Homo sapiens: one gene and its partner. The protein of the gene in region 1 purifies or fractionates together with the protein of each later gene. This does not show direct contact. Each region holds a gene or a part of one and is shown on either strand. Other genes may lie near its edges.

The links.
Region 2: the proteins of PLEK (region 1) and ARHGEF1 purify together in Homo sapiens (affinity purification with mass spectrometry; one large-scale study listed by BioGRID and IntAct). This does not show direct contact.

What each region holds. Positions count from the first base shown.
Region 1 is NC_000002.12:68,385,470-68,389,283, reverse strand, and holds part of PLEK (pleckstrin), read right to left. Parts: intron 2,783-3,814; coding exon 2,598-2,782; intron 898-2,597; coding exon 793-897; intron 1-792. UniProt on the Homo sapiens protein: Major protein kinase C substrate of platelets.
Region 2 is NC_000019.10:41,886,157-41,889,970, forward strand, and holds part of ARHGEF1 (rho guanine nucleotide exchange factor 1), read left to right. Parts: intron 1-1,907; coding exon of another isoform or gene 1,908-1,926; coding exon 1,927-1,950; intron 1,951-2,035; coding exon 2,036-2,122; intron 2,123-2,595; coding exon 2,596-2,709; intron 2,710-3,814. UniProt on the Homo sapiens protein: Seems to play a role in the regulation of RhoA GTPase by guanine nucleotide-binding alpha-12 (GNA12) and alpha-13 (GNA13) subunits. Acts as a GTPase-activating protein (GAP) for GNA12 and GNA13, and as guanine nucleotide exchange factor (GEF) for RhoA GTPase.

The DNA of each region.
Region 1 (3,814 bases):
TAAGATGCCTTGTGCAAGTATCAACTAGCTTCCCCCTGAATATTCTCATGTCTTCCTGCGACTTCCTCCACCAGGTACTGGTCCTGGCTTCCTCAGTCATCTTGGCCCCTGTCCATCTCTTACCTCTTGGCATCATATGCCTTGGCACCTGGTAACCGACTAGAGCTCCTCAGCACTCTCCAGCCCTTGCCTCCAAGACTGATGGTGGCCTGTACCTGTGGACACCTGGACATCCCCCCAGGACTCTGTCCATGCCCTCAATCTGCATTTGACTTTTGCCTGCTGTTCCTGTGAACTGGCCTCTGCATGCCCAGGTTTTGGTCTTGTCATGCCCTAAGCACAGACTGGAATGACTCTTCTTTGCTCTCAGTGGTGTACTCTGTTCCTCTTCTGGGTGTAGCCTGTTCCTGTTTTCCTGGTTGCTTTGAAGGGAGGAGGGACAGGTAAAATGGAAGTACTTTTACCATGAGACAGCTTTGTCTTTTGGATGGCATCTCTTAGACAATTTATCTCCTCCGGCCATATTTTTCTTGAAACACCTTTTTTTTTCCTATGATATTGATAAAAGAGGCATTTTCCTACTTTTAGGGACATCTTCTGCCCTGTCAAACTCAATCTTCCTGATCTAAAGCCACTTTGATATCTAAAGAGCTACTCATCTATCTTTCACTTTGTGGGTTTCATTTTCTGCTTGACTATTAACCAAACAAACCAAAAGTCACTGGGTAACTTAGAAACAAAAAGGACCTTGTAAAGGGAAAAGGCTAGATGGGAGCAGTTGTGGCCACTCACCTGCTTCAGTAAACATCCCTGCTTGATAATGACCCCTCTGAATTCTTCTTTCAGAATCACATCATCATCACTGGAATTCTCTTCACAGAAGAACCCACTGTCTGGCTGTTGGAAAATCAAACAGCAAGCTAACATCACCAGTCTTAGGCACATTGCAACTTGTGCCATCTCCATTCCCCCTCCCCTCCAGCCATGAGGGCAGCCTCCTCCTTTTTCCTCCATTCCTGTGTACATCCCAATCTGAACTTCAAAGGTCCTTGATGAGCGAGTTTCTCCTCCTCCTTTTACTTGCTTCCGGGGCTGTTCCTTTCTTGTCTCCACTCAGGTGTGATCTTGTCAATATCCTTTTATTCTGGAGGGTCTCCCAAGCTGTATCCTAACTTTAGCTCCATCTTCCTAACCAGGCACATGTCTGCCTTCAAAGCCTTCCTTCTCTTGGGATATCATGGTCACATCCTTGAAAGCAGGGCAGGCTAATTTCTCATTGGCAATACTATCACCAGCTCAACATTTGCCACTGAGCCCCCTCTTGGAGAAAAGTGACAGCATGTGTCCAGCCTCTTCCCCTGAGGTTATGAGGGAAGTGGGACTTGCTCAGCAAAAGTAGATGATGAATCAGACCGAGGAAGAGGAGCCACTGTGATGGGTATTTTTAGAATCCTGCATTGAAATGGCTATAAACGACCAGATCAAAGGACTGAAGAAAAAAAAAAAACAGACTGTGGAACTTCCCCTAAAGTGAAATGAAACCCTCTAGGGTGTTCACTTCATGTTTATAAGAAGAATGGTTCTCTTAGGTAACTTCCTAAATTCTGTGCTCTGATCCAAGATAGAAACAAAACTGCCAAAATCCCCCAAGAAATCCACCATTGCTCACATGGCCTAAGAACAGGTTCACATTGTATAATATAGTGTTTCCCAATCGTGGGTAAGCATACTGTGGGAGGTACACAAGATGACTGCAGGAAGTGACATCTGTGGACACATTTTGTATTAAGAGTCATGTGTTTTAACATACATTTGGAATAATGCACTTAATACATCAAACCTGTGATTTATAGACTCCTGTCTGGAAAGGAAGCTGCAGTAGGGCAGGATTTTTGCCTGTCCCTCCAGTACGCTTGTCTACGTGGCTGTATCTTCTTGTCTTAGAGAATGCTTGCCATGGACTAGGGTCTAAGACAGTTTTATAAATGAATTATTGCTTAGAATAAGAATAGATAGTTGGGAGGCAGAGGCAGGTGGATCACTTGAGGTCAGGAGTTCGAGACCAGCCTGGCCAACATGGTGAAACGCTGTCTTTACTAAAAATACGAAAATTAGCTGAGTGTGGTGGCGCATGCCTGTAATCCTAGCTACTCGGGAAGCTGAGACAGGAAAATCGCTTGAACCCGGGAGGCGGAGGTTGCAGTGAGCCGAGATGACACCACTGCACTCCAGCCTGGGTGACAGAGCAAGACTACATCTAAATAAATAAAAAATAATAATAAGTAAATAGGAAACAATAAACTTTAAAATGTCCTTTAAAAATTTTTTTTCAAGTAAACAGTAGTATCCTTTTATAATAACAAATTCACTTGGACAGGGCGAGTGTTGTAGAGAGGGCAGCTGTTGAGTTGGGAAATGCTGGTATAACAGAAGCTCTAAATGGGCCTGGGAGCTTCAGGTATTCCCTTGTTCTTCCTGGCTGACCTCCCTACCCGCTGCCTAACAGCGCTCTATAGATGTCTATGAACTGAAATCAATCTAGAATCTGCTCAGGGCAGCCTCCCTTACAGGAAGAAGAGATGGGGAGCTTTTCTTACAAAGTAGTAGAAGGCATCAGGGTTGTCCAGGAAAGGGTTTTCAGCAGTTCCATCCACTGCACTCTTGGACATGTCTCCAGCAGGCTGCAGATACCCCTCATTGAGCAGCGATGAAGCAATCATGAGGCCTTCCTGGCGATTCCTAACAGACTGGTTGGATACCAGCCAATCAATGACGCAGTTACCTAGATGGGACCAGCACAGGGAAGGTTAACTCTCCTTACCGAAGAACAAGCCCCTGACAATCACCCCTGAACTGACTCCAGCTCACCCACAGGTCTGACTTGTCTCGTCTCCCCTGTTATTTCAAGAAAGAGAAAACAAAATAAGTGGGATAGATACCCACTAGAAACAAACAAACAAACAAAAAACTATGTAAAGGGTTTTTAAGAACATCTACATGCTGCTTAAGAAGAAACACATGACCAGGTATGGTGGCACACCTGTTGTCCCAGCTACTCTGGAAGCTGAGGCAGTAGGATAGTTGAGCCCAGGAGTTCAAGACCAGCCCAGGCAACATAACAAGACTCCATCTCAAAAAATATGTACCCTAAAACTTAAAGTATAATAAAAAATAAATAAATAAAAACAAAAATAAAATAAAAAAATAATAACTTTAAAAATAAAAAAATAAAGTCTTTGTCTTAAAAAAAAGCAACACATGCATCAAAGAAATAGGTTTTACTAACCCACTCACTTATCCCATTGATGAACAAACATTTACTGAGCACCTACTCGATGCTAGGTACTCTACTGGGTGTTGGAGAAATTCCCTCAAGGAGTGTAAAAGGGCATGATGGGTGTAATAAATAAGTCTTGTAACAAGTGCTCTGCTATAAGTCAGTTGCGAGACTACTGGGTCAAATCTGAAGGTGTGAAAGAGGTGAAGGAGGTGAGAGAAGAGGGCTGTGCATCACCATCAGGAAAAGATTCATAGAGGAAGTGACACTGGGCAGAGGCTTAAAATATGAGTAGGCGTTTGCCAAGCATATGAAGCAGGATGCAGAGGAACCAGCACAAGCTGAGGGGGCAGCAGTGTGAACAGATGCACTCAGGCATAAAGCAGCCCCATGGGGCAGGGGAGGAGTTGGTGGAAAGAAGGCAAAAGGAAATAAGAGGAGGAGGGAGGTGAAGGGTGGGTGGGGAGAGCTTTGATGGCACAGTAAGAAATTTGGCTAATGGGAAATCATTTTAAGTTTTTAAATAGGAAATAATGT
Region 2 (3,814 bases), on another chromosome or scaffold:
AGAATAATAATGATCTCTTGGAGTCACCGAGAGGATTAAATGAGTTATTACCTGTCAACCAGCGATGCCATGCCTGGCACATACTAAGTGTCTCTTTTGTGTCAGCTGTCATTTCATTATTATTGTGATAAGGAATAAGGAGATAAGAACTTGGCAAGTGCACAGTTCCAGACCTGGCACCAAGCACTTGCAAAGATAATGAGTATCCCCTCCTTTGCCTTTTTAAAATTTCCCTGCCTCAGTTGAGCGTTTCTACCTCTGAGTGGGATGAGCATGCACCCTCCACGTCCGTGGTCATGTTTCATAGTGAGACAGGGTCTCACTGTGTTCCCCAGGCTGGTCTCAAACTCCTGAGCTCAAGCGATCTTCCCACCTTGGCCTCCCAAAGTGCTGGGGTTACAGGCATGAACCACCTCACCTGGCCAGTTTGCAAATTTATTAAAGTGAATGTTTAACAGTACTTGAATCTTGAATTGCCCAAGCTTAGATATTGGACAATACACTTTGTGGGAAATAATAAAAATGATGCCTTCCCCAGGTGGACCCACAGGGTGGCATTTGGACACTCCAGAAAGCATCATTGTTTAATCATCAAAATCCTGGTTACCATTTACTGGGGAGCTAGGGAGGAGGCCCATAAAGCAGGAGAAGGGCGGGTCTCTGCTGGCTTGGGTTATAAATAGCTTTGGGCTGTGGGGAGCCCCGCCGCTGGTCCACCCCACCCCTCTTTCCACAGCTCCTTCCCACCTGACACGGGCTCCGTGGCATTAGTCAGACTAATTAAGGACACAGAAGATGTCGGTGGAAAGACTCAGAGAGAAGTGGAGACTCAAGGAGAGACAAAGATGGGAGAGACAGCAAGAGATGGGGGAGAAAAAGGGATGGAGAGATGAGAGACAGCACATGAGACTGTGACTCAGAGAGGTGTGAGGATGGTGGCTGCAGAAACCAGATGTGGGAGGACAGAGGCACAGAGACAGGGACAGGACAGACGGAGCTACAGAAGCAGGAAGGGGGTGTCACCGCTGAGAGGGAGAGATGGAGGGAGGAGAGGCAGGGATGGTGGGGAAAATGAGACAGTTCTGGAGGAAGGGAAAGAGAAAAATCAGGAAACAGGGTGAAAAGAGACCAAGACATGAGACAGATTCAAGGGACAGACAGCCAAGGAGAGCTGGCTGCGGACAGACCAAGGCGCACGTAGGGTGGAGGGGACAGACGCACCTTGGAGATGGGCTGTCTGAGGCCCCATCACTTGGTTTCTGGGACTGGAAGCCTGGGAAGAGATGAGGTCCCTGGGGGAAAGAAGAACTTCTGGGTTTGGGGACTCCCAGTCCCTGAGGGAGGAGGGTTCTGAGTTTTGTTTTCTTATGTGGAGAGTTGGGGGTTGGGGGTTTGCCATTGTGACTTCCTGTCACAGGAAGTGGGGCTGGTGGGTTCCAAGGCAACATCCTGTCCCAGGCCTGTCACAGACCAGAGGAGACCCCTGCACCCCACTTCTCTCCCGCCTCTCCTCTAACCCTCCCATCCCCTCTTGCCTCTGGGCTGTGCCCTCAGGAATTAGCCCCCAGGCCCCTGGTCCCTCCAACCTGGGAGTCCAGGCCCCCAGCCCCCTCTTCCATTAGGGCATTAGGGACCCCAGATTGCAGGCTGTCAGACTCAGCCTTCCCATGGACCCAGGCTCCTGAGCCTCCAACGCCTGCCCCCGCAAGGCTCCCGTCCCTGGGCTCCCGCCCCCTGGCGGGTCTCTGAAGGGCTCTTTGTGGCCACACAGAGGCCCCATTGAGCTGCGGAGGCTGGGATGGGGGAGGCTGTTTACTCACCTTCACACCTGGGCCAGGAATCTGTGAGTAACCACCCTGGGCCGCCTCCTCCCACCCTCCTAACCACAGCCCCTCCTCTTCCTCCAGCCCTGCAGAGCCCAGGGAGATGGAAGACTTCGCCCGAGGGGCGGTGAGTGGACAGAGCAAGGGGTGAGGCGACTCTGGGGCTGTGGGTGGAGAGTCCTGTGGACTGAAGCTGCCCTCCCTTTCCACAGGCCTCCCCAGGCCCCTCCCGGCCTGGCCTGGTTCCCGTCAGCATCATCGGGGCTGAGGATGAGGATTTTGAGAACGAGCTGGAGACAGTGAGTGGGAGATAGGGTGGAAAAGCTCTGTCCCAGGCTCAGTGTCCCGCCCCAGGTCCCCTCCCACCTGCAGATGCTGTCTTCTTGGCCTTTTCCCACGGTCTGTCTCATCCTCTCATCTCCCTGGTACCTCCTTCCTCACCTCGCCGACCCCACACAGCAGCATAGACGCCCACCCTTCTTACTCTTAACCCCATTTCTTATCGTTGCTCTCTCCTCCCCCAGCATGGACCCCAATTTCTTCTCTCCTAATTTCTGTCCTCATCATCCACCATTATAATATTAAGTCTCATCCATTCTCCCTGAACACCTGCCCTTGCTGTCACCATCATTTTTTGGACACTGTCACCACTCCCCACTTCCCAGGAGCTAACCCTGGCTTGGATCCCTTGTGAAGTGCCAGGAATGGGTAGGGTCAACCCTAAGGCCCCTCCTCTTCTCCCCATTGTACTCACCCCTTCCTGCACCCCCAGAACTCAGAAGAGCAAAACAGCCAGTTCCAGAGCCTGGAGCAGGTGAAGCGGCGCCCAGCCCACCTCATGGCCCTCCTGCAGCACGTGGCCCTGCAGTTTGAGCCAGGACCCCTGGTGAGGGCAGGGCTGGGTGGGCACAGGGAGGGGTGGGGCTGGGACAGGCACAGCTTTTAGCGAATTAAACCAGCGAGCTAGTGCCTGGAGGGTCTGGAAAAGCAGATCTAGAACACAGAGAGCCAGATCTAGAAAGAGAGAATGCTTTAGACAAGAGCCAGAAAGCATGCCACGTGACCTCAACAGGCTTACAAGTGCCCAGGGTAGATCTCAGTGCGCAGCGGGCAGGGTACACACGTCAGGACCCCGCGGAGCCACAGAGAGTCCAGCAGCCTGGCAGAAACCACATCCCATCCCACTCTGTGCCTGTGGCAGCGCCCCCATCAGCCTGTGGCAGCACCTTTCCGTGAACTCTAGGGGACCAAATTCTTCTCTCCAAAGCCTTTTTGGCAGATGCCAGCACGCAGTCATTCACGGTTGATGGTTGGGAAAAAGAAGCTGTTAGCCATCCCAGGTCTAGGGAGCACAGCAGGCCCTGATCTGGAAACAAGAAAACCACCACACACAGCTCACAAGGCAGACCACACAATTGTGGATCCAGAAGCCTCCGGATGAGGCAGAAGATACCTGGGAGATGTGGATGGACAACCGTGCCATCCAGAAACACCCGCAGAGTCTAGAAAACCCAGCAGGTGATTTAGAAAGGGAGAGGCCACAGTGCTGGCTGGCAGGGGATCTGTAGACAAGGGTCTCATCCCAAGAAGACCCCGTCCAGCCCAGCACAGGATAGGAGGACAGCCTGGGGACAGCCAGGGCACTGCACCATGTGGACATGCATAGTGGACCCCTCCAGAAAACAAGGAAACCGATAGAGTGGGGAGAAGTGCCCGAGGCATGCAGAAAGAAGAACATGTCAGCTGCAAGACCAGAGGCTGGTCATCCGGACGCCAAACCATCAGATATGCAGAAAATTAGGAAATTGCAGTCTTTCCCCTGTCTACATTCTCTTTCCAGAAGAGTGGTTCCCCCGACAACCACATGCACGGAGACTCTGGCCCTCTGAGCAAGGGAGTCCCCTATTCAAGCCTTGGGGTTTCTAGAACACCAGATTGTGGACATCAGCCCAGGGATCGTGCTGACTACCATGTTCTTTTACAGATGTGGA